4 linked regions of the Homo sapiens genome follow. The protein of the gene in region 3 purifies or fractionates together with the protein of the main gene of each other region. This does not show direct contact. Each region holds a gene or a part of one and is shown on either strand. Other genes may lie near its edges.

Region 1 (7,901 bases), on a different chromosome or scaffold from region 3:
TACAAGGTGAATAATAAAAATATTATAAAACAAACACAGTCACAAATAGCCACATCAGACTGATGGGACGCCACACCGTGCACAAGCATCATGTGTTCTTAGAACAAGGCCCTGCGCAAGCATCTTCCTGTCACACACATCTTCCCGTCACCACAGACCACCAGCCCTTCAAATGTAAACGTGTGCAGGAGTAGCCTGGGGGCCTTGCTAAATAAAATGCGGCCTCTGATTCAGTAGCCTTGGACAGGACCAGAGGTTCTGCCTGTTCTGATGAGTTCCCAAGTGAGGCGGACAGTGCCAGTCCACAGACTCACACTTTGAGATACAACACCTGGGCCGTTGTGTCCAAATCCACTTGATAACCTGGAGCACTTATTAAATATCCAAATTGCCAGGACTTTCCTCTGGAAATCTGGATTCAGTATGTTTTGGTTGGAGCCTTGGGCATTTGGGAAAACTAGAATTTCTTTCTCTCTCTTTAGACAAAAGTCAACTACTGTTGAGGCATGGGCTTAATAAATGTTGACTAAAATATCCAACTCAACGACCAATCCTGTACAGTTTTCAAACGGTGTTAGTAACTTATTTGCAAATAATAAGGAACAACTTATTCCTCATCACACTGAGGAGCCGTGTGACCCATCGTGCTGGATCAGAGATGAACACCAAGCACGCTCCTAACACCAATGTCACCCTGAACGTCAACAGGAAACATTGGCCGTGGAGAAGTTGTTTAAACCTCTTGAAGCATCTTGCCAACGACGAGACTTCAATAATCCTCCTTTATTCACAAAAAATTTAAAACCAGTGGCAACAACGGCACATTACTTAATAAAGCAACTAAGTTAGAAGTGCAAGACACTGATTTATATGCTGTTGATAGGTCTGGAGAGACAGGACCATTCACTAGGCTGAAAAGGTGGTGGCCATCTGGTATCTTCCTAAAAAAGTTTATCAGGGTCCTGGCCAGGCGCGGTGGCTCACGCCTGTAATCCCAGCACTTTGGGCCGGCTGAGGTGGGAGGATCACGAGGTCAGGAGTTTGAGACCAGCTTGACGAATATGGTGTAACCCTGTCTCTACTTAAAATACAAAAATGACCCCAGCGTGGTGATGCACACCTGTAGTCCCAGCTACTCAGGAGGCTGAGGCAGAAGATTCACTTGAACCCGGGAGGTGGAGGTTGCAGTGAGCCGAGATTGTGCCACTGGACTCCAGCCTGGGCAACAAAGTGAGACTCTGTCTCAAAAAAAAAAATAATAATAATAATAGAAAATAAAAAATAAAATAAATAAATAAATAAATAAATAAATAAATAAAAAGTTTATCAGGGTCCTAATCCTTTCCCAGAAGGCAAACTAAAGCCTGGAGCAAGACAAGGTCTTCTCCAAGGCCACACAACTGTCAGTGACAGAGGATTCAGTTCAAAGTCCTGTCTTTTCAGGCCTGTGCCTACAAACCAACCGTTAATCTGAGTATTTCAACCTGGCCAAAGGCAACACAAAACACCCAACCCTATATTTTTGGGAAAGAAAAAAACGGGGGCAACTGAGCAGACAGACAGAGGCAAGTACAATGTGGCCTCCTAGATAAACCTCAATGCGCTTATTTCTTTTGGCACAGACACTTCCTTCTTAATTTTGAAGGAAAGTCACATCACATTACATTCTATCTGTCCCTAAGAATTAAACCCTGTTAGGTGAGCCAAACTTAAACACATTAAATTCTACAAATAGGCCAGGCACAGTGGCTCACGCCTGTAATCCCAGCACTTTGGGAGGCCAAGGCGGGCGGATCACCTGAGGTCGGGAGTTCGAGACCAGCCTGACCAACATGAGAAACCCCCGTCTCTATTAAAAATACAAAATTAGCCTGGCGTGGTGGGCCATGCTTGTAATCCCAGCTACTCGGGAGGCTGAGGGAGGAGAATAGCTTGAACCCAGGAGGCGGAGGTTGCGGTGAGCCGAGATCGCCCCATTGCACTCCAGCCTGGGCAACAAGAGCGAAACTCCGTCTCAAAAAAATAAACAAACAAATAAATTCTACAAATAGCCATTAGAATTATTAGGATAGAAAACGATGATGGGTACTAACAGATTCACTCAGAAGGAGTGGGCAGCTAATTCACATTATGTGTAGCTCTGGCTTGGAGAAGACACAGGGCTTGGAGGAGGCAAGACTGTTCAGCATGAATTAAAATTGATTTATGAGCTTGCTGTAGCACTTGGAATAGAAAAAAGAATCTTTTCAGCGCCTTTGACCCCTCTCTCAAATTACACCAGGGTGCAACTGAGGAACAACAGTGCCGACCACCCACTTTTCTCGACCCTTGGGGAAAATAACTTTTTTTTGGAAGGGAGAGTCAGTAGATGAGGCTGCATTTTCCACCAGGGAACACGAACTGCTGCGGGAAGATCCCAGCTTCTGGCTAAAGGAGCCGCAGGCCAGCTCGCCATCCAGTCCCCAGAGCCCGGGCTTTAGGTAAAGCGTGGAGATGCAAATCAGTTTCGCCGCCAAGGACCGGCCAGGCGCGTCTCCTCCCGGGCCTCGCAAGGAACAGGTCAGGGAGACGACTTCCAACTTTCTTGGCCGGACCCTAAACGTTCACCGCCCCTGCCCAGCCGCCCACTCCTGGGCAGCCAGCAAGTCTCCATTCACAAGCGGCTCCATGCTGCCCAGCACTGGCGCCCCTGAGGCGCGGAGCCCCGCAGCCAAATGACAGGACTTGGGGGCAAACAAGGACAAAAGTTCCCACCAGGTGGGCACTGCAGGAAGGAGGCCGACAACCCCGAGATTCTCCGAGTCCCGCGGCACGTGCGCTGCGACGCTGGCCGCTTCCCCCGCCGCTCGGGAAGGTCACGCCGCCCGCACACCGAGGCCCGCCCCGCGCCCCGCTCCCCGCTCCCTCTGCCTGGCGCGCTCCCCGCAGCTGCAGGCGCCAGACCGGGCTGCGCTCACCGCCGCGCCGGCGTGGCCGCGTCCAGCTCAGGCTCCGCCGCCCGCTCTCGGCTCCGGGTCGCCGGCTGGGGCGGCCACTTAACACCCACGTCGGCAACGGCCGGCCCTTCGCCCCTCCCTTCGCGCAGGCATCCCGGACTGCGGCCCCGCGAAGCTCAGGAGCGCCCCTGCGGCTGGCGGGCGGCCTGCCCAGGGCCGTGCCCGAGCCGAGACCGGGAGCCGCCACCGCCCACCGGCCCTGCCACCGCCCCCAGCACGGGAAGCGGAAGTGGGCGTGGGGCCGCGGCGCGCACAGCCAGCCCGCGACCCGGCGTGGTGCTGCCGCCGACCCTGGTGAAGGTGGAGAGCGGGGCCTGCGCCTCCGGAGACTTTCCCACCTCTGGGATCCCCGAGACCCTCTCTGAGGCCGGACCCTTGTTAGCCCGCTGGGCTGGGACTGGGGGCTGGGGGCTGGTAATGTCAGTGGTTGGGAGGACTTACTTTTTAGCTACTTTGACCTTGTTGGGAGGCTAAGGCCTTATTTATAAATTATATTTGAGTACAAAATTATACTCGGGATCCAAGGCCCTAATAGGAAATACAACTAAGTATGAAAATACAGGAATTAGCCGGGCATGGTGGCTCACGCCTGTAATCCCAGCACTGTGGGAGGCCGAGGTAGGCGGATCACCTGAGGTCAGGAGTCCAAGACCAGCCTGGCCAACATGGTGAAACCCCGTGTACTAAAATTACAAAAATTTATCCAGCGTGGTGGTGCGTGTCTGTAACCCCAGCTACTAGGGAGGCTGAGGCAGGAGAATCGCTTGAATCTGGGAGGTGAAGGTTGCAGTGAGCCAAGATTGCATCACTACACTCCAGCCTGGGCTACACAGCGAGACTCCGTTTCATAAAAACAAACAAACAACGACAAAAAAAAAAAGGTGTGGTGACACATGCCTCTATTCTTAGCTATTTGGGAGGCCAAGGCGGGAGGATCGCTTGAGGCCAGGAATTGGAGGCCGCAGTGAGCTATGATGGCACTGTTGCACTCCAGCCTGGATGACAGAGACCTCATCTCTCTCTCTCTCTCTCTCTCACCCACACACACACACACACACACACACACACACCCTCCACACAGTGTAATTTTATTTTACAACTTTAAGCCTTGTTTAGATGTGCTGTTGGATTATTATTTTTTTCTTTTTTTTTCTTTTTTTTTTTGAGACAGAGTCTCACTCTGTCACCCGAGCTGGAGTGCAATGGTGCAATCTCAGCTCACTGCAACCTCCCCCTCCTGGGTTCAAGCGATTCTCCTGCCTTAGCTTCCCAAGTAGCTGGGATTACAGGCATGCGCCACCACACCCAGCTAATTTTGTATTTTTTAGTAGAGACAGGGTTTCACCACCTTGGCCGGGCTGGTCTCGAACTCCTGACCTCAGGTGATCTGCCTGCCTCGGCCTCTCAAAGTGCTGGGATTACACGTGTGAGCCACCACGTCTGGATGTGCTATTGGATAATTACCTACGTTATTTAAGTGATTTAATTGGTGTTAGTGCTTAACATGAATGCACACTTGAGTAGACCTCCCAGGCTGTAGTAGATGCTATGATGGGATCAGAGTGCCTGGTACATGGACACTCATCAGAATCAGCACTTTAGAACTTGGGCTTCTGGACTGTAATCGAGTTACAAAAACAAGCCAGGGAGTTGGGATGACTTGTCCAAAGTGATGGGGAACATAACTAACTGAAAGCAGATCCAGCAGCTGAAACTACAGTTACAGCAGCTTAAAGGGGTTGGCAATGTCACCTGGTCCAATAGCTTTTGCAGCTTCAGAAAATGAGACCCAAAGGAACCCTGATTAAGGACAGACTTGGCTGGGTGTGGTGGCTCATGCCTGTAATCCCAACATGTTGGGAGGCTGAGGCAGGAGGATTGCTTGAGCCCAGGAGTTCGAGTTGAACCTGGGCAACACAGTGATGTAACTGCCCAATGGGTTCTTCTCGCCCGCTGCCTCAACTGAGCCAATTTATCAAGATGGGGGAATTGCAATAGAGAAACAGTTTAATTCACGCAGAACCAGCTGTGCAGGAGACCAGAGTTTTATTATTACTCAAATCAATCTCCCCAAGAATTCGGGGTTTGGAGTTTTTAGGGATAATTTGGTGGGTAGGGGGCCAGTGAGTGGGAGTACTGATTGGTCATGTTGGAGATGAAATCATAGGGAGTCTAAACTGTCCTCTTACGCTGAGTCGGTTCCTGGGTGGGGGCCACAAAACCAGATGAGGCAGTTTATCAATCTGGGTAGTGCCAGCTGATCAATCCATCAAGTACAGGCTCTGCAAAAATATCTCAATCTTATCTGTGATCTTAGGTTTTACAATAGTGATGTCATCCTGAGGAGCTATTTGGGGAGGTTTAGAATCTTGCAGTCTCCAGCTGCATGACTCCTAAACCATAATTTGTAAACTTGTGGCTAATTTGTTAGTCCTACAAGGCGGCCTAGTCCCCAGGCAGGAAGGGGGTTTGTTTTGGGAAAGGGCTGTTGTCGTCTTTGTTTCAACGCTAAACTATAATCTAAGCTCCTCCCAGAGTTAGTTGGGCCTACACCCAGAACAAGGACAGTTTGGAGGTTAGAAGCAAGATAGAGTCAGTTAGGTCAGATCTCTTTGACCATCATAATTTTCTTGGTTATAATTTTTGCAATGACAGTATCAGTGAGCCCCTGTCTTTACTAAAAATCAAAACAAAAAAAAATTTTTTTAAACCTGGTGTGGTGGCGCATGCCTGTAGTCCCAGCTACTGGGGAAGCTGTGGCAAGAGCTCTTGAGCTGTGTTCATGCCACTGCAGTCCAGCCTGGGCGACTGAGCAAGACCCTGTCAAAAAAAAAAAAAAAGGAAAGACCCTGTTATAGATTAGAAAGAGCACTGGACTTGGGGCCAGGATGTTTGTGTAAATGTCCCTGTGTGACCTTTAGTGAGTCACTTAGCCTTTTGTAAACCCCAGCCACAGCATGACTGCATCACTGGTTCCTTTGAACCCCCTGTGTTCCATCAGCCTGCTGGAACAGTCCACCATGCAGGGCGCTTGGTACTCTCCTCGAGCCATTGGGCCCTAGCCTAGTGCTTTCTCTTGTCTTCCTTGAGCCCCTTCCTCTCCTATCCTGACAAGGGCTGTTCCAAACTCTCATCACTCCCAAGCCTTCCACATTTCTCCTCTCCATGCCTCCCAATTTGTTCTATAAGAAACTATCGGAATTTTGCTCAGATTTTTAATCCATAGTCTACAAAGTTACCTTTTTTGGGTTTTTTGCACAAACTCTCATTTATTTGTCTTCTGTCCAACTTAGTTGCTGTGTCCCCTTGCCTAGCCCAATGGCTGGTGAGAATGAGGTTGGAGAAGAAACCAAGGTGTTGGGAGGCCACATTACACAGGCGCTAAGAGAAAAGCAGGGACTCAGCAAAGTTCTGTCCAACTCCAAAGGTCAGGCGCTCAGCTGGTACACTGTGCAGTGCTCCCTCCCAGAGGCTTTTTTTCTTTCTTTCTTTGAGACGGAGTCTTGCTCTGTCGCCTAGGCTGGAGAGCAATGGCGCGATCTCGGCTCACTGCAACCTCTGCCTCCCGGGTTCAAGCAATTATCCTGCCTCAGCCTCCCGAGTAGCTGGGATTGCAGGCGCCCGCCACCATGCCTGGCTAATTTTTTTGTATTTTTAGTAGAGATGGCGTTTCACCATGTTTGCCAGGCTAGTCTTGAACTCCTGACCTCAAGCGATCCGCCTGCCTCGGCCTCCCAAAGTGCTGGGATTACAGGCATGAGCCACTGAGCCCAGCCGAGGCTTCTTATTAAAAGCAAGAGGTGCCAGATGTGGTGGCTCACGCCTGTAATCCCAGTGCTTTGGGAGGCTGAGGCGGGTGGATCACAAGGTCAGGAGTTCAAGACCAGCCTGGTCAATATGGTGAAACCCCGTCTCCACTAAAAATTCAAAAATTTAGCCATGCATGGTGGCAGGTGCCTGTAATCCCAGCTACTTGGGAGGTTGAGGCAGAGAATTGCTTGAACCCAGAAGGTGGAGGTTGCAGTGAGCCGAGATTGGGCCACTGCACTCTGGCCTGGGTGACAGAGCGAGACTCTGTCTCAAAAAAAAGGCAAAAGGGCTGCAGGAACTGGAAGTTCTTTCTTCTGAAATACATCTCCTTCTATAATATTTTATAAAAGTCACCTCCACAGCTTAAAATCCCCCACAACAGTGGCTCTTTCTGCTATCTTTATTTTAGGAAGAAAGAAATAAATATATAGATGTTAAAAATGCTTCCTATCTCTCAGATGCTCAGAGAAGTGATTGTAAAATCATCTGATTGGCACTAAATTAAGAAAGTGTCCATGCAAACTTTGTTCTGAGTGTAATTTCCTAGGAATCCTGGCCGGGTGTGGTGGCTCATGCCTGTAATCCTAGCATCTTTGGAGGCTAATGGGGGTGGATCACCTGAGGTCAGGAGTTTGAGACCAGCGTGACCAACATGGTAAAACCCTGTCTCTACTAAAAATACAGAAATTAGCCGGGCTTGGTGGCACGTGCCTGTAATCCCAGCTACTCGGGAGGCTGAGGCAGGAGAATCGCTTGAACCTGGGAGGCGGAGGTTGCAGTGAGCCAAGATTGTGCGACTGCACTCCAGCCTGGGTGGCAGAGTGAGACTCCATCTCAAAAAAAAAAAAATTCCTAGGAATCCTATGGCCTCTTGAGAACAACATTTTAGAGACATGGATCACTGCTGTCTATAGAGGTAGCTCAATTCAATGGTATTTCAGACCTAGGTTCCAAACAGGAAACACGTCAACACACTGACCTCTCTGCTCCAGGTAACCGTTTGCTGTACTTGGAATTGCACGATTCAGAGATTTCAAAGCAGCTGGCTTTGTGATGGGTGGCAAGTGTGACGCAGGTCAGAGGTGAGAGGACAGA
Region 2 (7,022 bases), on a different chromosome or scaffold from region 3:
CTCAACAGGGTCTTCTTTCCCTGCTGATTCCGCCAAGCCCATTCCCTTGGCTGTGGTTTCGCTGGATAGTAGGTAGGGACAGTGGGAATCTCGTTCATCCATTCATGTGCGTCACTAATTAGATGACAAGGCATTTGGCTACCTTAAGAGAGTCATAGTTACTCCCGCCGTTTACCCGTGCTTCATTGAATTTCTTCACTTTGACATTCAGAGCACTGGGCAGAAATCACATGGCATCAACACCCGCCGCGGGCCTTCGCGATTATTAACTCTTGTAAGCCTAATCTAGGTTACTGTATTCTACCTGATGATCATTCATACTGGCCATTTCCTTCCTCTGACCTACTTGGGCCACAGGTTTCTAAGCTCCACTTTTGGAGTAGACAAATGAAAGAAGGCTTCCAGCAACCATTTCACAGAGGAGTGAAGGCCTTTCACCAAGGACAGTTTTGCTGAGAATGCTGGGAATTTTTTTTTTCTTTTTTTTGAGACAAGGTCTCTGTCTGTTGCCTGGGCTGGAGTGCAGTGGCATGGTCAGCTCACTGTGACCTCAAACTTCTGTGTCCAAGGGATCCTCCTGCCTCAGCCTCCTGAGTAGCTGGAACTAGAGATACACACCACTACACCTGGCTAATTTTAATTTTTTTTGTGTGGAGATTGGGGGGTCTTACTTTTTTGCCCAGTCTCGTCTTAAACTCCTGTCTTCAAGCAATCCTCCCGCCTCAGCCCCGCAAAATGCTGGGATTATAGGCATGAGCCACTGCACCTGCTGAACACAGAAATTATGGCCCCTGTTCATTTGTTTTTCCCATGATCATTGCTGTTTCAGCCCCCCTCTGCCCTTCTTTTTCTTTCTTTCTTTCTTTTTTTTGAGACAGAATCTCACTCTGTCACCCAGGCTGGAGTGCAGTGGCAGCGATCTCAGCTCACTGCAACCTCTGCCTCCCAGGTTCAAGTGATTCTCCTGCTTCAGCCTCCCAAGTAGCTGGGACTACAGGCACACGCCACCATACCCAGCTAATTTTTGTATTTTTAGTAGAGAAGGGGTTTCATCATGTTGACCAGACTGGTCTTGAACTCCTGACCTCAAGTAATCCACCTGGCTCAGCCTCCCAAAGTGCTGGGATTACAGGTGTGAGCCACTGTGCCCGGCCCTCCCCTTCATTTTCTAAAAAAAAATGAAGCCCAAGCACTTGTCTTTAAAGATAATAAGGATCAGGAAACTGAGACACCTGCATTTTTTTCCTATAGTAGGTTTGGGAGCTTGGAGCCTAGAACTAGAGTGGGGAGTAGCAGCTTTAAGAAATAAGGGTAGGCCAGGTGTGGTGGCTCACGCCTGTAATCCCAACACTTTGGGAGGCTGAAGTAGGAAGATCACCTGAGGTCAGGAGTTCGAGACCAACCTGGCCAACATGGTGAAACCCCATCTCTACTAAAGATACAAAATTAGCCGGGCATGACGGTGGGCGCCTGTAATCCCAGCTACTTGGGAGGCTGAGGCAGGAGAATCACTTTAACCCGGGAGGCGGAGGTTGCAGTGAGCCGAGATCATGCCACTGCAGTTCAGCTTGTGTGACAGAGTGAGACTATCTCAAGAAAAGAAAAAAGAAAAAGAAAAAGAAATAAGGGTAGGCTGGGCACAATTGCTCATGCCAGTAATTCCAACACTATGGGAGTCTGAGGCAGGAGGATCACTTGAGGTCAAGAGTTGGAGACTAGCCTGGGCAACATAGCAAGATCTTGTCTCTACAAAAAAATTTAAAAAGAAAATTACCTGGCGTGGTGGCACGTGCCTGTAATCCCCACTCCTCAGGAGGCTGAGGCAGGAAGATCACTTGCGCCCAGGAGTTTGAGGCTTCAGTGAGTTATGATCGTGCCACTGCACTCCAGCCTGGGTGGCAGAGTAAGACCCTGTTTTAAAGAAAAAAAAAGAAAGAAAGAAGTGTAGAATCAGGGGGAGGCCCCATGACCTGAGGAGAGATGAAGGATTATAGGGCAAGTGGGTGAGACATGCCTTCCGCAGTTTCAACATTGACCACAGTTTCAACATTGGAAGACCTGTGTGGTTCCCTACTCTGCCTTCATAAGTATATTTACATAGAGCAGGTCCTAGTCCTAGGATAAGCTTCATTTGTTCCTCTAGTTCCTTTGTGCGCTGCAGTATAGTAGGCTGTCTACACAGGGAGCTGGGAGGTCCCCCAGGATGCTGAGGAAAGAACTCTGTTGCAGTTTATGAGCCTTAAAGAACTGGCCAGTGATTTGAGTGGACTCTTCATTGAGCCGTCTCTCCGTAGAGAGAGAGATAAATGACTTCCTAGCTGCTTGCAATGTAGTGGAAAGAATGCAATTACAAAATAACTCCAAATACTGGTGGTTGGTGATGGATGCTGGGCCATGGTATGATTCAGAGCCAGGGAGGGAGTGCTCTTCTGGTGAAGGTGCCTGAGAACACTTTTCATAATAAGAATTAATATTCTTACCTGTCTTTGCGCTTAATAGAGACACTCTGTTCATATTACTTATTCACCATGAATTCAGGAAATGTTTACTGAACACTGCTTCATGCTGGATTAGGGGAATAGAGATGTCTACAGTGTTGACCTACCCCCAAGGCTCAATCTTAGTAAAGTTGGTGTCATGTTTCTTCTTGTGTTTTGAGGTTCACAACAGATGTCATCATCCATTTTGTTAAATGCTCCTCTCGCTTCTGCCTTTTTCTCATTTCTGTCACCCTTTAGGTCTTATATCCAGATGGCCAGGCTCAGATGATTCACCCCAAGCCTGCAGACTTCCGGAATCCTGGCCCAGGGCGGCACCGGCTCATCACTCAGGTTTATCTCTCCCACACCGCTTGGACAGGTAAGGAGTCAGGACCAGGGTGGGAAGGGAAATATGCTGCTGGAGATCACACCTACCCTTAAGCGTTTGGTTTTTAAAGTTTGAAAAAAATACATGGATGAATCAGGCCTTGTAAGAATTGAACTTAATGAGTTTATAAGCACTCATTAAGTGGGTAAAAAACTGGGTATATTTGGGCTAATTTGCTACAGTGCTTTGATTGCATGAGAGATAAGATTCTGTTGGAAGATATACAGGCGATTATGATAGAATGGAGTCTCATGGAAAGGGCCCTGGTCTGGACACCAGGAGATTATTCTTATCCTAACTGCCACCGACTTGCTTGGTCACCTTAGACAAGTCTCTCCCTTTCTGAGTCTTTTTCCTTATCTTCCAAATGACAATAATAATTCTCAACCTACAAATTAGTTGTGAGGATTTTTAAAAATATTTTTTTTCATTTGCCAACTTATGTCTGAATTGTGAGGATAAAATGGGAGAATACAAGTACAAAGGAGATTACATTTCAAGCCTGTAAGCCTGCTTTAAAAAACTTAAGAAGACCTCAGTCTGCAGAACCTAGAATAGGGGGCAGAATTGGCCTCAGTGGTGTTTCCCAAATAATTGGAGATGGTTCAGGAGCACTGTTACTGGAGGTGTTTAATGCCACCAAATTTGGTTTATTTTAGAGATAGGGAATGCCTTTTGGAATTTTCTTTCACTCTGTGTTTTTAAACACATAATTATAAGGCTATTATTATTATTATTATTATTATTTTGAGACGGAGTCTTGCTCTTGCCCAGGCTGGAGTGCAGTGGTGCAATCTCGGCTCACTGCAACCTCTGTCTGCCTCCTGGGTTCAGGTGCTTCTCCTGTCTCAGCCTCCCGAGTAGCTGGGATTACAGGTGCACGTCACTACACCTGGCTAATTTTTTTGTATTTTAGTAGAGACAGGGTTTCGTCATGTTGGCCAAGCTAGTCTCGAACTCCTGACCTCAGGTGATCCACCCGCCTTGGCCTCCCAAAGTAGTGGGATTACAGGCATGAGCCACTGCGCTGGGCCTTTATTAATGGTTTCCCTCTGTCAGGGTGTTAGATGGGTAATGATGACTTTATGAAGCTGTTGGATGTTAGGGCAGCCCCTTTGGGGTTCTAGTGGTGGTAGGCCTGGTGTAGTTGAGGGAGCATCCAGCAGTTCTGCTACCCAGGACGTGCTTCCCTGAGTATTCCTCATTCCATAATCTGGCTGCCTGGAATGTTTTTGCACTATTTGCCAAACCACTGGCCCCACAGGAAAATAGATTCCTTATTCTAATATCTTCTGCTGAAGGGATCCCGGACATGGGGAAGGAAATGCTGTGGGACAGTATTGTTTTGGGAGGGACAAGGCTCAGGAAAGCAAATTACAGTATGCTGTAGCTCCAAAGATCGTGGAAGGTCTTGAGAGGGTCTGACTTGTCCCTGGTCACACAGCAAGTCATTGCCAAGGCCAGAGTTAGAACTCAGCTGATCTGCCCCCAAGCTCAAGGTTCTTTTTCCTAGGCCCCATTTCCTCTTAAGGTATCCTAGTTCATTGCAGACTTCCTTGTTTTGTATTGCCAGGCGATCCTGAGCCTGAATAATTTTAACTTATACAAGATCACAGCCAGGCCTGGTGGCTTGTACCTGTAATCTTCGGGAGGCTGAGGTGGGAGGATCGATTGAGCCCAAGAGTCTGAGACCAGCATGGGCAATATAGGGCAACCCTATCTCTACAATAGATATATAAAAAAGTTAACTGGGCATGGTGGCATGTGCCTGTAGTCCCAGCTACTCAGGAGGCTGAGGCAGGAAGATTGCTTGAGTCTGGGGGGTCAAGGCTGCAGGGAGCCCTGATCATGCCACTACACTCCAGCCTGGGTAACAGAGCAAGACCCTGACTCAAAAGAAAAAAAAAAAAACCATCAGAAACAAGAAAACAAGATCACCTCCTCTGAATGGTCGCTACCCAGTCACTATTACAAATCCCTGTTTTAATTGTTTATATATAGTGCGTACTGGTTTCAGATGTGTTTTCACATTTAATTACTTACTGACTTTCCCATTAGGATGTAGGCTTCTATAGAGCAGGGAACTTGCTTGTCTTTGCCTCTGTATCTCCATTGTTTTAGTAGCCTGTGTCTCTAGTGCCTGACATGTAGTAGGCACTCAACAAATAATGAAAATTGAATACAAGGTTTTAAATGTGCAATAAAAATTCATTTAATCTTTAGACCAACTCTGCAGTGGAAATTAGTATTCTCTTTTCATTTTACAGATACATAAATGGAGGCCCACATACCTGATCAGTGACAGTGCTAAAGCTGCAGTCACCCTTCCCAGCCCTCACTGTGCTATGTCCCTTCCGGTTTGGGGCACTGAAGTGAAATATGTCTCATTGTAAATGAGCTTGCAGTTTCTTTCTCCTAATCTAGGTGATGGGGCCTGGAGTTTCTAGGGAGCTCCTTCAATCCCTCAGTAGCTCCCCACCAGGGAGGGGCCTCTCCTCTGGGAGGCAGGATGCTGCCACGTAGGAAGCTCAGTCATAGACCATGTTTCAAATTCTGCTTCCTTTGCTGTGTGATCCTGAGAAAGTTATTTTACTTCCCTGTCTCATTAAGATGAGAATAAGAATATAAACCTGCTAGGAGAAATATTCTTCCAGGCATGACGCAGAAGTTGCTTGAGTTATCCTAGATGATCTTGTCTCCTTCTCCCAAGTTCCCCTCCTTCTTGTTTTCTCTCTTCTCCGCTTTACTCCTATGGCATTGCCTTGAATTGCCATTCTTATCAAATGTTGGTAAGGGAATGCAAAATGACCCTGTAGGGCTGAGTCCTACATCAACTCCCTCTGACCTTAGCAGGATTTATTTGTTTTTTTGTTTTTTTGTTTGTTTGTTTGTTTGTTTTGAGACAGGGTTTCCTTCTGTTGCCCAGGCTGGAGTGCAGTGGTGTGATCCTCTCGGGCTCAAGTGGTTCCTCCCACCTCAGTCCCCCTAGTAACTGAGACTATATGCCTGGCTAATTATTTTTATTTTTTGTAGAGACAGGTCTCACTATGTTGCCCAGGCTAGTCTCAAACACCTGGGATCAAGTGATTCTCCTGCCTTGCCCTCCCAAAGTGCTGGGATTATAGGCTTGAGCCTTATCCAGCTCTTACCAGGATTTGGCTTCTTGAAAGTGCTATGCCAACTGGGGCTGTGGTTGTGGTCTGCCACTTGGGATGGAATGGGAGAGTGTGGCAGGAAAGCAGATATAGGTACCTATTTTGATTCCACCCTAAGTGGGAGATTCATCTGGAGCCTGGTATCAGAGAACAGTGTTAGTTTCATGACAGTTACACTCATGGCTGCTGCATGACCCTCATGTTGTCATGTGAGTGTGTGCTTATCACATGGCTGGTACTTGATGATGAGGCTGCACTTAGATCTCATGCTGAAATCTGAGGTGCACTGGATTGCTCTGGCCTTGGGCTGACTGCAAACCTTTCCCTTCCTGGAGGACAGCAATCCAGTCTCTACTCTGACCCATAGAGAGAAGCTTGGATGTAACCAGGAAGAGGTCTGGGGAGGCACTGAGAAGTCCTGGAGTCTCTGCCCTTGTTAATTTAGATCCATCTAGCCTTCATTCCTACCCTCTGAACTTCTTAGCCTTGGGATCATCTTCAACTTACACTTTTTGCTCTGGTTGCACCAAATTAAGGAGACATCCCAAGCTCACTCCATTCCTGGCCTTTGCACTTGCCCTTACATTTTTCTGAAATTCTCTCCCTCTTCTTTATAGAAGCTTGTGGTTAATAGAATGAGTAACTGCTTCAGTTTATGAACTGGGCTCAAATTCTTACCCAGGTGTGCATCTGGGGAGTCTCTGAGAACCTATCTGATTCTTGGGATTTTTGCCAAGATTGTGACAGTCTTTCTTTCATAATGTAGCAGGATAAGAACTCTTGGGGTTAACTGTTTGGCATAGAATGGATATTCTATTCCAAAGCCTTCCTGCGCTCCTCCTCAGTACTTCTTGCAGGCTTGGTTAGAGCGTGTGTTGTACTCCATTGCAACTATCTGTTTCCTCAACCAAACAGCAGGCAACTTGAGGGGAGTTCTTAATTATTCTTGCTAGGACCTGCCACATAGAGACACTAGATGATTATATCGTAAGATAATGT
Region 3 (7,797 bases):
TATCATATAATATATATTATATAATAATATAATATAATATAAAATATTATATAATAATATAATATAATATATAATATATATTATATAATAATATAATATAATATATAATATATAATATATAATAATATAATATAATATATAATATATATTATATAATAATATAATATAATATATAATATATATTATATAATAATATAATATAATATATAATATATATTATATAATAATATAATATATAATATATATTATATAATAATATAATATAATATATAATATATATTATATAATAATATAATATAATATATAATATATATTATGTAATAATATTAATATATAATATATATCATATAATAATATAATATATAATATAATTATATAATAATATAATATATATAATAATTATATAATACAATATATAATATATATTATATAATAATAATATAATATAATATATTCATAATATATTATATTATATTATATATTTATATACTTATTATATTATATTACTTCCTTTATTATTACTTCCACTTTACTGATAATTACTTATATATAATATATAATAATTATATAATTATTACTGATAATTACTTATATATAATATATAACATTATATTATATTATACTTATTACTGATAAGTATATATACTTATTACTAAGTATATAAACTTATTACTGATACGTATATATACTTATTGCTGATAAGTATATATACTTATTGCTGATAAGTATATATACAGTATTGAGCTTAATGTGGTCCTGAGACCCAGCCTTATAAAAGCAAATGTCTGATGCCTGTGTAATGGCACTGAAGAAAAGAAAGGTTGAATTTACTAGGTGTGTGCTCCTTTATAAGACCCATTCTAGGTCTCTTTCTGAATCCCCTTCCTCCCATCATCACAAAGAGGTTGACATTTTCCATATCTCTATCCCATTCCCCCACATGACTGGCTTCTCTCCCTTTCCTGGAATGCCTCCTGGATGGAGGATTAACTTATATAATAGATGTTTATAAAATGTTTCTGAAATGTTTAAAATGTATATAAAATGTGAATATTAGAAATTTTTTAAATTTTGATTATCTTGACATATCTCTTAGCCCCACAGGAAGAGGCTAGCAGCTTACTCTGGCCGCTACAGGGTTTTTAGCAGTGAAGCTGCAGTCCCACAGAGTTGTCCAGCTGAGAAACCCCTTTAAGACCAGTCAAGTCAACCTCCTCACTGTACAGATGGGCTAGGAACAATGAGGTCCAGGGAGAGGGAAGGTATTATTTGCAGCTCAGCATAACCTGAGCCTGAGGTCTATAGTATAAGATCCTGTGTACAAATGGAAGGCCTGCTTCCAGGTCTGGAAAAGCTCATAGGCTGGGGAAGGAACAAGACACATGAGTGCTCTCTCTCTCTCTCACACACACACACACACACACACACATGAATGCACACACACATACACACACACAAACAAAGGATTTAAATTTAACATTTCTAAAATGCTCCCTCAAGCCCCAGGCTTAAGCCCTAGCTCAAACCAACAGACTTGGAGAAGGTAGAGAGATACATTATAAAACCTGCTAGAGAATGGAAATGTGGTAGTTATAGAAAGAAAAATGTTTTTTCAGGAGCATTAACTCTGCCACTAATGCTCTTTGGCTTGGGGGCAAATTATTTTTTCTCTTGGTTGACTTAATTCAGAGTCTTTTCTAACTCTGAGGTTCCAGAGTGTGATGGGTCACAGAGCCCCAGGATAGGGTAACCTAATCAGAGTCAGCTACGGAAAGCTGGATTCTTTCTGACCTAACAAGTGACACCAAGCTAACACCTATCCAGCCTTTTTCTCTAGGGATGATAGGGAAGCAGCAAAATCCCCCTTTACCCTATATTGGATCTCACTTAGCTGTTACCCAGGTTGAGTTTCCTGAAAATCCATCTCACTTCTCAGGAGTGTAGATGAGGATAGAGCTTCCCAAGCTCCAAGGAAATAATGCCACTATGGAATAGTCCATCCTCCTTTGGGATTTGTATCCAGCCCATAAATAGCCCAGACAAATTGAGCCATGTCTATAGGGAAGTGAGTTATCCCAGGAATGGGTAAGAAACCAAGTCCTATGAAGACCAGTTGAAAAAGCTGGGGCTGTTCAGCTTGGAGGAGAGAAGAGTCAAGGAGACATAGTACTTGTCCTCAGGGCTTTGAAGGGCTATCACAGGGCAAGGAAGCATCTATGTTCTGTGTAGCCCCAAGAAGCAAAGCTGGGGTTTTTGGATGGAAGTCAGAGGGAACTGGATTTAGTTCAACACAAATAAGAACTTTCTAACAGTTGGAGCTGCTCCTGGATGGACTAGATGGTCTGGGGAGGTAGTGAACAGTGAAATCTCAATCACTACTGGATGTTTCTGAGCACTTATTCATGACAATGAAGGGTGGTATAGGTTACTTCTATAGTCCTATCCAACTCTTAGAAAACACTCCTTCTTCGGGGGCTGTATATTTTAACAGAGACCAAAGCTTGGAAGCAGAGTGGTTAAGTCCAATTGTAGAATTTTAGATGAGAGACAGCAGATGGAGGAAAGATTCGGATGTCATTGGGAACCTTCTTGATGCCCCTGAGATACAAGCCCTAGAAAATAATGCAGATGTTTTCCAAGAGAAAAATCCTTTTTCAATTTCTGCCCAAACTTGCCTTCTGGCTTCTTCAGCAGCCTTCAACTACATCCATCCGTTTTGCTCAAGGCTGAGAGAGCCTGCAGAGTTTGGCTGAGAAGACTCACCTGCCCAGTAGGAATAGGCTTTCCATAGTAGACATTAAACACCAACCCTCTAGCCTTTTGCCTAAGCCAGCAATGGCAGCCAGGCCCCCCTTTCTGCCTTACCATAAGTGTCCACTGTTAGGTGCCCCAGGAGTAGCAGGCCCAGTAAGATCCCCATCACAGCCAGAGCTACTTCTGTCCTTTCTTCCAGCCTCCTGCTACCAAAGAGGCTCAAACTTCTGGTGGCCGCCAGCGTCTGTGACTGCTTACTTCCCTTCCTTCCCTATATCTCTCACTCAAACTCCTAGTCCCATCACACATTCCCCTTCCTTCCCTATTTCAGTACAGGTCATGTGGGGTGCCCCCCTTCCCCCACCTCCTTGGGGTTGGAGGTTCCAGGATGAGTGAAGCAATTCTTCCCCCTGCTAGGGTATTGACTTGACTTTCCTTGGAGCCAATGGGGCTTTCTGGTCTTTGATCTCCTAGGCTGTATTTATTTTGAGTCTCCTCCACAAGATTCAGAGGTTGTGGGGGCGACCTTTGGGATGAGTCTTCCCACTCCAGTATGGCGGTGTTTTCCTTTGTGGTGAGCCCAGGGAGAAGAGATCAACTTTGCTGACCTACCCAATTTTCATTAGTTGTACTGTTAACCCTTGCCTGTGCAGCCTATGCAACTGGACAGGGTGTTGGGCCCGGGGTGCTTTTGGGCTTAAGAGTACAAGAGTTTAGTGTATTAAAGGGCTTTCTACACATCAAAGCTTGAATAATTGACAAGCCAATGGATAAGGCTGTTATGGGTGAATATGCCTCATATCTCATATTGGGGAAGCTCTTTGAATCACTTTCTACAATGGCTCCACCTCTCTGATGGTAAGGGAGAATTCATTTTCATTAATGTTCTCCATGCTTTTTCATAAGGAATTTATTTTTTACTTCTTTTAAGGGAAATTTAAGCCTAGCCTCCAGTGCAGCAGCCCATTAGTGGTATGCTGTATTAGGTTGAATTTTTCATTGACTTCCAATTGGTACAGGCCCTTGACCTACAAGAGAGTAATATTATGCCTCCTAGCAAAGCTCAACTGCTCCAGAAATTGCTCCTCTTCACAGGCCCCAGAGTGACTGTAATTTCATCAGCAGTCTAACTAGGTTTGGCACTGCGCTTTGTCTACTAAGCTTTGAAACAATAAGCACTTTCAAAAGCACAAATACATCCCAAAAATTCATACTGCACTGTAAGTAACAGCTAAGCTTAGTTTACTCTTTGATTGGAGGGATAGGAAAGGACTTGGTCAGGGGAGGGAGGAGTTTGTGCAGAGATGGGGAGTGGGAATATAAAGAAACATACTTGCCAAGGGGTGGCTGCATGCAGATGATTTGGAGCTGTGCACGGGCTAAGGAGACATTCCAGCATTTCAGGACACATTATTACATGGAATTCTATCAATCACCTCTGCCTCTAGGGCCCAATCCCCCTTGGCTGGTTGTTCCTTGTTTTTTGAGTACTGCACTCATTCCATCTCACTGGAAATTTCAGCCATTTTTTCCCACCGGGTCCTCACTCAGGAAACCCTGAACTTCACAGAACCCTCCTTTGATATTTTTCAACCAACACCCTATCACCACTACACCACCACCACCGCACAGACACACACACACACACACACACACACACGCACACACATACACACACACACACCCCTCCCCTTCCCCGCTAAAAAGCCCACTGGACAGATGTAAATTTCTGCCTGGCCAGGTGATTGTGTGTTTTGTGCTACCTCTTGCATTTTATTAGGACCTCCTGGATCTGAAGATAAATAAATGTCCTGGGGAGTATGCACAACATTACTTCAAGGCTGGGAAAGACTTCCAGTCTTGCAGTAGGCTCAGTAGCCCTCTTGATTAGTAAAAGAATTGGATGAGAAGTCAGAAACCTGGAGATAAGCCTGGCTCTGTGTCTACTTCATTCTGAGATCTTGAACAAGTCAAATCTCTCTGAACCTCAGCTTCCCTAATTGTAACATGAACATAATTATACTTGATGCTTGTATCTTTTCAGATTTATAAAAATCAAACTATACTATACATACAATAACAACTATATAATGATAGTTGCTATTTAAAATCTTTTACTCTTCCAGTCACTGAATTAAGCACCTTGCATGGGTTATTTCCCTTGGTTCTTACAACCCCTCAGGTGGGTATTATTGCACATACTCTTGTATCTCTCCCTACCACTCTATACTCCCTTACACTACTTTTCTTTTTCATTGTAGAGCCCACATATTTGTTGAATGAATGAATTCAATATATCCCCATTTTACAAATGTGTCTAAAACCCAGAATGGTGAAATCACTTACTTTTATAGAGGGTGCCTAGACAAGATTCAAACTCCTAGCTATATGCCTCCAGAAATGATACTGTTAAGTAACACACTATTCTGCTTCATTCACACCTTTAATGACCACTTCTACAATAGTTCCAGGTCTTTTCTGGATGTTGTGAGGGAGAGAAAAGAAATGTTAGGTATGGTCCCTGTATAAGTGAGATTTTAGTGTAAAGGAAAGACAAACACATATGAACCACTAATACAAGGTGAATTATTAACTGAGCTGTAAAACTTGTGGTTTGGGCAGTATTTAGTGAAGGAAATAGTAGCGTGGGAAGGCTTCCCAGGTAAAGTGATACTAAAACTACCATTTGTAGAACTCCTGCTCTGTGCTGTGCACATTATCCCTAGGCCTTACCTCACAAGGAAGACATTATGAATAACCTTTCCTTATTGAGAGAACTGAGGTCTGGAGGTACCGTGGAACCTGCCCATGGTCACACAACTGATAAATGACAGAAGTGTAATTTACCATCCAAGTTGGTGTTTCAAAAAATTGTACCTTTGATACTCCATGCACCAGGGCATGAGCCAGAAAAGATGAAGTGGTTGAAGAGGAGAGAGATGGATAGTTACTTTAATTCAAGGGGTCCACGTTTTTCTTATTTTCAAGCTCAGTGCTTCATGAGATGATACTGTGCATGTGGTAGGAGTTCACAGAATGTGGGTGAGCAGCAGAGAAAATGACTCACACCCTTTGAGGCCCAATATTCAGAGGTCACTGTGGCTCTGTGTCTATTTCTACCCCCATAGCCCACCTTTCTAGACAAAGGTTGAAAGGTCAGGTTGGAGAAATTTATCAATGTGTAAACATTATCTGAGACCCTCCTGTGTGTATGTGCACCTTGGGCTTACTGAGTTGGAGGGAAGCAGTGGTACAAAGAGTAAATCCACACAGGCCCTGCTCAAGGACACACACACACACACACACACACACACACACACACACCCCTATAAGTACTACAAATAAACATAAATGCACAGATACATATGGTCACACATTTGTGTATAGCTATACATATGTATATAATATGGCCTTAAGCACAAACGTGAGCACATTGATGTACAACACACAAAATATACACACAGAGACATGTAAGCACAGACACACAAAATATGCATGCAAACACACAAATACACATAGACCTGCACATAGACATGAGAAAACAAGCAATGAAACACAGATTCATACACTTAAGCAGGACATAGGTAGATAATACATGCATATAAACATATGAACACTTAAATAAAAACACAGATATAACATACATATACAGAGAAATACACATATAAACATCAACCTAAAAATACATAGAAAGATAAACATGAGGGTTTAGAAGAAAACTAACAATAACAGGCCTTACATATTAAGGGACAAAGGAATGGCAGAAACTGTTTTGTACAATGGGAGTTGAGAAGTGGTAGCAATCCCTATGGACTTCAGTGGTTTAGGAAAGCTTTCTAGAGGAGCTGGAGTGTGGGCTGGGATGTGAGATTTGGTTAGCATTGGATAGGCAAAGAGGATGGGGAAAAATTCCAGGTAAGTGGTAGAGAAAGAGCCAAAGTCCAGAGGCAATCAAAGGCAAGAATGATTCTGATGAACAGGGAGAGTCAGTTGGACTTTAGCTTGGTGTATATTTAGAAAGGCAGGAGAAGAAAAAGCTAAGCCAGATTGTGGAGGGTATTGAAAATAAGGCCAAAATGCCTAGACTTGATCTTAAAGACTTCTATGGGAGCCGTAGAAACTTCTATGGTGAAACGGGGGCCTGCTGCGGTTGAAAGCAGCTTCTTAGGACCAAATCTGTTTGCAGAATATCAATGGAATAGGATGGGGAAATTGGAAGCAGAAAACTGAGAGACTAATTAGACTATTGGTTGTATAATGCAGTGGAAAGAGCATGGGAATGGGCATTAGGAGACCCGGGTTCATTCACCTCTCTAGGCCTCAGTGTTCCCATCTATACTCTAAAGGTGTCATATTCACCCATGGATTTTCAACCTATGTTCTGGGGATCCCTAGGAGTTCTGTAGCAGGGAAGAGGAAGGGAATAGACAGAAATTTAGGTGACTGGATTTCAACCAATGGTGTACTAGAGACAACTTAAATTCTAAGAGCTGATTGTGTGAATTTATTCCTAACTCTGTGTTTAGTGACATTGTGTTGGTAGTTTGAAAGAAGCCATGATGAAGATATTTACAAGACCCTAGACGTAAGACCAGGCATATAATAGGTATTGAATAAATGCATATAATGCACTTTTGATGTTTCTGACACTGTTCTAGGTCCTGGGGGATATAGTAATAAAGAAACAGACATGAAACTTAAATTTTAATAGAAAGAAAAAAGTTTAAAAAACAACCAAGCAAATATCAAAAGGAAAATCAATCATTATATAATTATATATTATATGGCTCAGCCATGATATACCAGTAACATAAACACTGAATCTTGCTCTCACCACCAACATTGTCTATAAATAATTTATTTATTAATAATAAGTTGTGGAATATGAAGACAGGAAATACTCATATATGTATGTGCAGGACTTGGGTGAATAGAGGTGAGGGAGTGAATTAGAGCTAGATTTTTAAGAATAACAATAGCAATATGAGCATGTTATTCAGAGATATGAAGTCAAACACTGGCCAAAAAAAAAAAAAAAAAACA
Region 4 (7,262 bases), on a different chromosome or scaffold from region 3:
ATCCTATTTTTACTGAACCTTTTCTATGTTTAAATACACAAATACTTACCATTGTGTTACAGTTGCCTACGGTATTCAATACAGTAATATGCTACACAGGTTTATAGCCTAGGAAAAATATATAGCTTAGGTGTGTAGTAGTTACACTATCTAGCTTTGTGTTTATACTCTGTGATGTTTGCACAATGATAAAATCACCTAATGATGCATTTCTCAAAATGTTATCTCCATTTATAAGCAATTGGATGACTATATACGCATTTCTAAAACTCACCTGTCTGAAAAACCTGATGTCTCTGAGAAGGTTGAGGTACCACTTTTTCCCTTTCCCTTCATCACTTCCTTTCTTCCACTTTATAAAAGAAAGGCATTCCCGTGCCCCAATCTTAAACCTTGCACTGATCCAAAGAATAAAAACTTTTGGGTATCAAATATTTTTAAATAAAAACAAATAAACTGGTGGAACCTTAACTAAGAGATAATTAAATAATTCCTTCAATAAAGGGACCATAAACACCCAAATTCATCTCTTTAAAAAGATGGACTTCCAATAAAATTTTACTTTTGGTTAATAATTATCAAAATTGGTAATCTATATTGTTTTAATCAATCATATAGTACTAATAATTGAATTGAAAATTCAATCCATAAAGAAGTTTTAATACTTGGAGGCTTATGACAGAAAACAGCAATTTAAACACATTTTTTGACACAGAAGGGTATGACAGAGTGATCAGTAAAAGAGCTTTTCAAGCATAAAATTAAATTACATTAGGAGAAATTCTGTAGGAGAAATGAAATGGAAATAAATTCAAGAGGAAAAAGCAGCTATATGGAATGTCCAGCAGATAAAGAGGAGTTTGTATTTTTCTAAAAAATGGATGATGTGATTATCAAATCACTATAGTATTTAAATTATATTAGATACACTTAAAGGAGTGATATAGCATTTTTATTTTTAAAATGTCAATATTCCCAATATGGTCAGAAATTATATTCTTTGCATTTGTTTAAGTTTATAATAAAAACTTTTAGATATCAATTTAAAAATACACAGAAGAGTAATCAGATTTCCATTTTAGAAGGATCATTAGCAGCAATGTGGAGAATAAACCGAAGACAGACAAACTAGGAGGCCATCTGGGAGACTTCTTACAATCCAGACAAGAAGGCATTAGGGCCCAACCTAGGGAAATGGAATAGTAAAAATAGAACACATCCAGCATACAGTAAAGATGCATAATCATAACAGATAAAGAAGAGAGGATGGATTCAAGAGATTTTAACGAAATGTTTTGAATGTGTAACTGTGAGGAAGATGAAGAAGTCTTTAATTTACTCAGGTTTCTGGCAGGTTTAAATAATGAGGCCACTCTCTAAAATTGGTAATATTGCAGGTTTGGGGGAAAAGCTGAGTTCAGTTTTGGGTATTTGAGTTTGAGATGCTTGTGGGATTGACCGTCTAGGTGCTAATCAACCCACACAGCTTTTATAGAAATGAATCTCAGGTACAGGAAGTCTTCCAATAACATAATTTTGTACAATGTCATTTCGTTATACTGTTCATGAGGAAAAAATCAATTCCTGTTTGAGGCCATTGGCCGTGTGGAGTTTGTACATGCTCTTCCCATGTTCATAGGGGTTTTCTCCAGGTACTCTGGTTTCCTCCCACATGCCAAAGATGTGTATGTTAGGTTCACTGGTGTGTCTACATGGTCCCAGTAGACAATGAGTGTGTGTGAGTGCTTCCTGTGATGAAATAGTGTCTGGTCTAGAGCTGGTTTCCACCTTGTACCATGAGCTGCCAGGATAGGCTCCGGGCACCCACAGCCCTGAGCTGGAATAAGTGTGTCAGAAAATGAATGAATACAAATCATTGTAAAATAAAAATGGGTAAACTTTACAATAATCATACAAATGAATGACAATAAACGATTTGGTATGAAAGGGCTCAGTGAGCTGCCATATTTGTGATTGTTTTTGACCTGGGTGGTGGTAGGAGGTGCTCCTTCCAATTTTCACTTTGCAAACATTTATTCCTTGATTTAGCCCACCACCACTATGACCGAGGTCACTCGCTGATACACCAAAACTTGGATAATTATCTCACCTGTTTTTATTAATCTTTCTCAAATATATGTATAGCACACAATTATTTCAACATTTAATATTAAAAGTACTTTGAGTCTTTCTTTAGAAGTTCGGTGGTGTTTGTGTGACCAAAATATGCCACTGAAACAATTCTTATTTATATCAAGTAGCCTATGGTAGAGTTAGTTTAGTTATACACTGTTTTCCCTAAAGTCACAGTTTCCAAGAGCCTATCTAGACATTAAGTGAGGACTTACTATATAAGTAACAGAAGGTTGTATGTATGTAGAAGTGGAAGAAGCCCTGGTTGTGGCTGTGATCATCCAAAGGAGTAGGTAGAAGAAGAAAAGGGGTCAAGGATGGAACACCAACACTGAAGAGGAAAGGAGATGATTCTATAGATTTCATATAATAACGAATGAATTTCAGTGACTATTATGTAACAACGAATGAGTACTTGAGAATAGGAAAGAGGGAAGGGAAAGGTAAACACATGGAGAATTAGGAGAAAATCTGTCACAAAATAGAGGCTGAACAGCTCCCCCAGAACACACATATAGTAAGGTGTGGAAGTATAATAAAACCCAGGCAGTTTAACTTCAAAGACAGAGTTCTTAGCCACTGTGCGTACTGTCACTCTTAAACAGAGGACAAAGAAGTTACTCAAACAAGGTCCCAGGAGAGACAGAAAGAGGAGCATTTAAGTATAATTACAAAGATTATCTAAGAGGGAAATAAATAAGGATGGTATAAAGTTTCAGACTGCTAGCAGGAAGTTGAGGGACTACTTCTCAGTCTCTTTCTCAATATTATTTTCCTAGACTCATCGCTGAATATAAAAATTCCCTTCTCAGGTTCGTTTTCCACATAGTTTCAAGGGGAAAAAGAACCTCTGGCTATAGTCGACCTTCACATGAGTGAGATTTTATTTCTGTCCAAGGTTAATCTGGGTAGTTAGCTCCCTTATCTGAAACTTACCAAAAAGTTTAAGTTGATGACATCCAAATCTAACCTCAAATCTCTTATTGCCAATGTTTTAGCGTAAGAAAATAAGTTAGATTTCTACGTATTAACATGGGAATACGTTCAACTTATACCATTAAAGTGAAAAAACTGGACGTTTTGATCCGATTTCTGAAAATAATAGGTATTACCTCTAGCGTCGAAAACATCTGGAATAATATACTTCAATCTATTAACAGGGGTCATCTCTGGCGGATGTGGTTACAGGCATCTTTCACTCTATAATTTAAATTTTTATGACCGTGTAGTAAACGGGGAAAATAAGATTTTGTTCCTGTTAGAAGCAGATATCCTGTCTTCTCTGCTTGACTGAGTTCCTTAACAGCGGGTCATATTCACTGGTATATACCTATAGCACATAGCTGGGCTCACTAAGATTCTACAACAAACGAATGAATTAATCAATGATTAGGAGTTTTGAGCATCTCAAATAACCGTTGAAGGAAACATATACACACAAATGCATGCATTTTCCCGTTAACGCGCAATGGAGATGTAAGCTGTAAGGGGCCTTGGAAGGCAGTTATTTCGACGTCCCTGCCTACGTTACGATTTTAAAAGCCCGATTACGATTACAAGTGTCCCGAGGGGATGAAAGTACAGCTTTCTTTAGTAGTCCCTGCTAACACTAATTTACCCTTGCCATGGGAGAACTCAGAAGCTGAGTTCAGAATTGGAGTCGGCCCTGGTCGGAGGTGGCGTGTGTTTCGGGGGAAATGAATTCCGCCAGCTCCGAGCAGCGGTTGGGACCGTTACTCACCATTTCTCAGGACGCCAAGCTGGGGCTGGCGGAGCACCGAATTGAAGAGCATCAGGGTCGGAGGAAAAGCCTCAGCTGAGAGAAAAGTCGTAGAAATGCCTCCAAGTTCAGCAGAAATCGCAGCTTGCGCCTCTCACAACACAAATCGTTATCGCCTCCAACTCCCGCCACTGTAAGCCCCGGCCGCCAAACTCCGCGCCAAACTGACGTCACGCTCTCTGATTGGCTTCCGAGCGACGTCCGGGCGCCTCAGAGTCATTTCCCCCTTCGGATCCCCGCCTCCTTTTCTCCCAGCCGCGGGAACCTGGAGTCCAAGAGCTCCTTGAGCGCCTGCGCAGGGGGTAGCAGAGGCGCGGACAAACCGCGGGGTGACCAGGGCGCATGCGTAACAGGGCTTGACAGCGCGCGGAAGAAAAACCAGCAAGAAGGCGGCGGGGGAAGATGGCGGTCCTGGGGTAGAGTTTGCAAGCTTTCTGACTAGGCTAGTCGAGTAACTATTCGGGTCATGGCGTCAAACTCAACTAAGTCTTTCCTGGCAGATGCCGGCTATGGCGAACAGGAACTGGATGCCAACTCTGCCCTTATGGAATTGGACAAAGGTATTCGAAAGAGAGGGCTGAATGGGTGAAACAGGCGTGGGGGGAAGTGGCGCCACCAGGTGGTGGTTGCTTTGGGAGAAGACGGATAGGCGCATGCGCATGTCTTCGCTGGGCGGGGAGCGCCTGTGCTTTTGCTGGGGCGTGGGCTTTGACCCCTTCGGGAGGTTGCGGGAAATTTGCAGGATTGTGTGACTGGCCTTATACCGGCTAAACAAGTAGCGAGCTCTAGTGAGAGGCCCGTTTTGACCACTTGAGGGAGCAGTCCCCCGATTTTCTAAGCAGTGACAGTGGCTAGTTTCTAAGAGACACTGCAAAGAAATTGTGAAATTGGTTTTCAGTCTGTTCAGTTGAGACCAGGTCTTCATGAAATGTGCTGAATAGTAATCTTGCACCGACTTGACAGCGATTCATTTGATTTCCATAGCTCTGTTACCTGCGGGTTACAAGGCAGGCTAAACCTGGCCAAGACCATAAAAAAGCAAGGGCCCTGCTCATTCTCTGCGGACAAGTTCCAGGAGTTCTGTTGCCGTACAGGGAGCAGCTTGGTGTAGAGGGAGCTTTGGGGTTACACTGAGTTAAGTTTCAATGCCGCTGATTTTATGATTAACTTCATCTAGCCTCGGCTTGTCGTCTGCAAAGTGGGTACAGTACCATTGAGCCGGCAGAATTGTATTAAGTGACTTAATGGTATGCAAAAGAAGCATTTAGTAAATGCTGAAGAGATATACCTCCCTTCTTAGATGTGGATATGGGAGGCAAGGTCGGAAATTTGTTAGTAAAGAACTCGACTAGTAATATGAAACCTTTATTTCATATTGAGGATTTTTATTGTACGGGAAACATTTCGGCAGCTGGTATACAATTAAATCTTGATTAATCGTAGCCAATATATAATGTTGGAGAACTGGACTAGAACTCAGAAGGGTTTGAGCCACTTCCCAGTTTTCTGAGTTGGACATGTCTATTAACTTTTTTGGGACTCTTTTTCTGTTTATTTTTTAAACTGTGAATATTTTTAGTGGGTTAGTCTAAATAAGAGTTTCTCAGGCTCTTAAAAAAGCTTTTACCTTATTTTGATAAACACAAAAATTTCACAGCCCCCTAATGGGATATTCCTTTGGTTGAGTCTCAGTATCTTTAGTGCACCCCCATCAACCAAGAAAATTATGTTGAACTTTTCCTTCTCTTACCAAATCTTTAGGGGTTTTCTCCTCTGAAAAAAAAAAGTATAATACTAAATGTGTTTTTCTCTTTTTTTTTGGAGACAGAGTGTTGCTCTGTTGCCCAGGCTAGAGTGCAGTGGCGCCATCTCGGCTCACTGCAACCTCCGCCTCCCGAGTTCAAACGGTTCTCCTGCCTCAGCCTCCCGAGTAGCTGGAATTACAGGCGCCCGCCACCACGCCCGGCTAATTTTTGTATTTTTAGTATAGACGGGGTTTCACCATGTTGGCCAGGCTGGTCTCCAACTCCTGACCTCAGGTGATCCGTCCGCCTCGGCCTTCCAAAGTGCTGGGATTTACAGGCATGAGCCACCGCGCCCGGCCTTAAATGTGTTTTTCAAACACTTTCCTCCTCATTCTGATACATTTCTTTCTTATTCCTCAGTGAAAGTTACAGGTCAGGATAATATCTAATATCCCTACGAGTTCTAAGGACATTTTCTACCATTCTGGTGCAGCTGAGCTTGTCTCATGCTGACAATAGGATAGTGGTTGTGGAACAGGGATAAAGATGGGGCACTGAAGAGGAGTCTAGAATGGTTTAATTCCTCAAATTTTGCAGTTGTAAGAAAAAAACCACAATTTTTCCTTTTTAAAGAAGAGTTGAAATGAAAATATTTTATATCTATAGGAAAGAAATCAGGTGTCAATCTTAGACACAGAGTAAGTGATCATTTGCACTCCTCCCAGCAATGCCTGGCGTGAGTGTTTTACAGGTGAATCTCAGGCTCAGAAAGATGACTTGTTCTTTTTCATCTCATCTGTAGTAACTTTTAAAGCTGTTAGGAAATTAAGTTATAGAAATAGCCAGTTTCGTGTAGAATATAGTTGAGTATTTTAAATATTGAGTCATTTCATCTTGTACCTGTTAAAGTATTTCTGTTTTGTGAGCTAAAGGTCAGAAGGCTACAAGTTCCAACTCTTTTTTTCGTTCCCAAACTCCAAGGAATACTGTTTCTGAAATATCTCCCCCACCTCAGCATACACACTCAGACACATGACTTATTTGATCGGGCTTTGTACTAGGAACATGGCAGTTAATGAGACAAAACTCCTGCCCCTATAGAGCTTACATTCTAGACAGCAGATGCAGACACTCCGCAAATATAGCAAACGTGACAGTTAGTGATACATATTATAAAGGAAAATGAAGCAATGAAAGGGACTGGAGAAAACTGATCTGGGGCTGGAGTTGATTTCTTATTTTATGAAGTATAGGCAAGAAAGACCTCCTCAATCAAGTGGAAGAACAGCAAGTACAAAGGCCCTGAGGTAGAAGCCTCCTTTGCATGCAGTTATCTGGAGCAAAGTAATAGGCAATGAGTATAGAAAGATAACCAGAGTCAGTCGGGCGTGGTGGTTCACGCCTGTAATCCCCGCACTTTGGGAAGCTGAGGCGGGCGGATCACGAAGTCAGGAGATCGAGACCATCCTGGCTAACATGGTGAAACCCTGTCTCTACTAAACAAAATACAAAAAATTAGCCAGGCGTGGTGGTGGGCACCTGTAGTTCCAGCTACTTGGGAGGCTGAGGCAGGAGAATGGCGTGAACCTGGGAGGCGGGGCTTC

The links.
Region 1: the proteins of VSIG4 (region 3) and SLC25A15 purify together in Homo sapiens (affinity purification with mass spectrometry; 4 studies listed by BioGRID and IntAct, with this or other methods). This does not show direct contact.
Region 2: the proteins of VSIG4 (region 3) and INTS4 purify together in Homo sapiens (affinity purification with mass spectrometry; 4 studies listed by BioGRID and IntAct, with this or other methods). This does not show direct contact.
Region 4: the proteins of VSIG4 (region 3) and INTS7 purify together in Homo sapiens (affinity purification with mass spectrometry; 4 studies listed by BioGRID and IntAct, with this or other methods). This does not show direct contact.

What each region holds. Positions count from the first base shown.
Region 1 is NC_000013.11:40,784,720-40,792,620, reverse strand, and holds the start of SLC25A15 (mitochondrial ornithine transporter 1), read right to left. Parts: upstream 3,011-7,901; 5' UTR 2,958-3,010; intron 1-2,957.
Region 2 is NC_000011.10:77,879,669-77,886,690, reverse strand, and holds part of INTS4 (integrator complex subunit 4), read left to right. Parts: intron 1-1,774; exon of another isoform or gene 1,775-1,911; intron 1,912-2,738; coding exon 2,739-2,859; intron 2,860-7,022. UniProt on the Homo sapiens protein: Component of the integrator complex, a multiprotein complex that terminates RNA polymerase II (Pol II) transcription in the promoter-proximal region of genes.
Region 3 is NC_000023.11:66,037,079-66,044,875, forward strand, and holds the start of VSIG4 (V-set and immunoglobulin domain-containing protein 4 isoform 1 precursor), read right to left. Parts: upstream 3,003-7,797; 5' UTR 2,921-3,002; coding exon 2,866-2,920; intron 1-2,865. UniProt on the Homo sapiens protein: Phagocytic receptor, strong negative regulator of T-cell proliferation and IL2 production. Potent inhibitor of the alternative complement pathway convertases.
Region 4 is NC_000001.11:212,032,555-212,039,816, reverse strand, and holds the start of INTS7 (integrator complex subunit 7), read left to right. Parts: upstream 1-4,259; 5' UTR 4,260-4,379; coding exon 4,380-4,473; intron 4,474-7,262. Other genes in the region: DTL (denticleless protein homolog), read right to left, coding at 3,875-3,926. UniProt on the Homo sapiens protein: Component of the integrator complex, a multiprotein complex that terminates RNA polymerase II (Pol II) transcription in the promoter-proximal region of genes.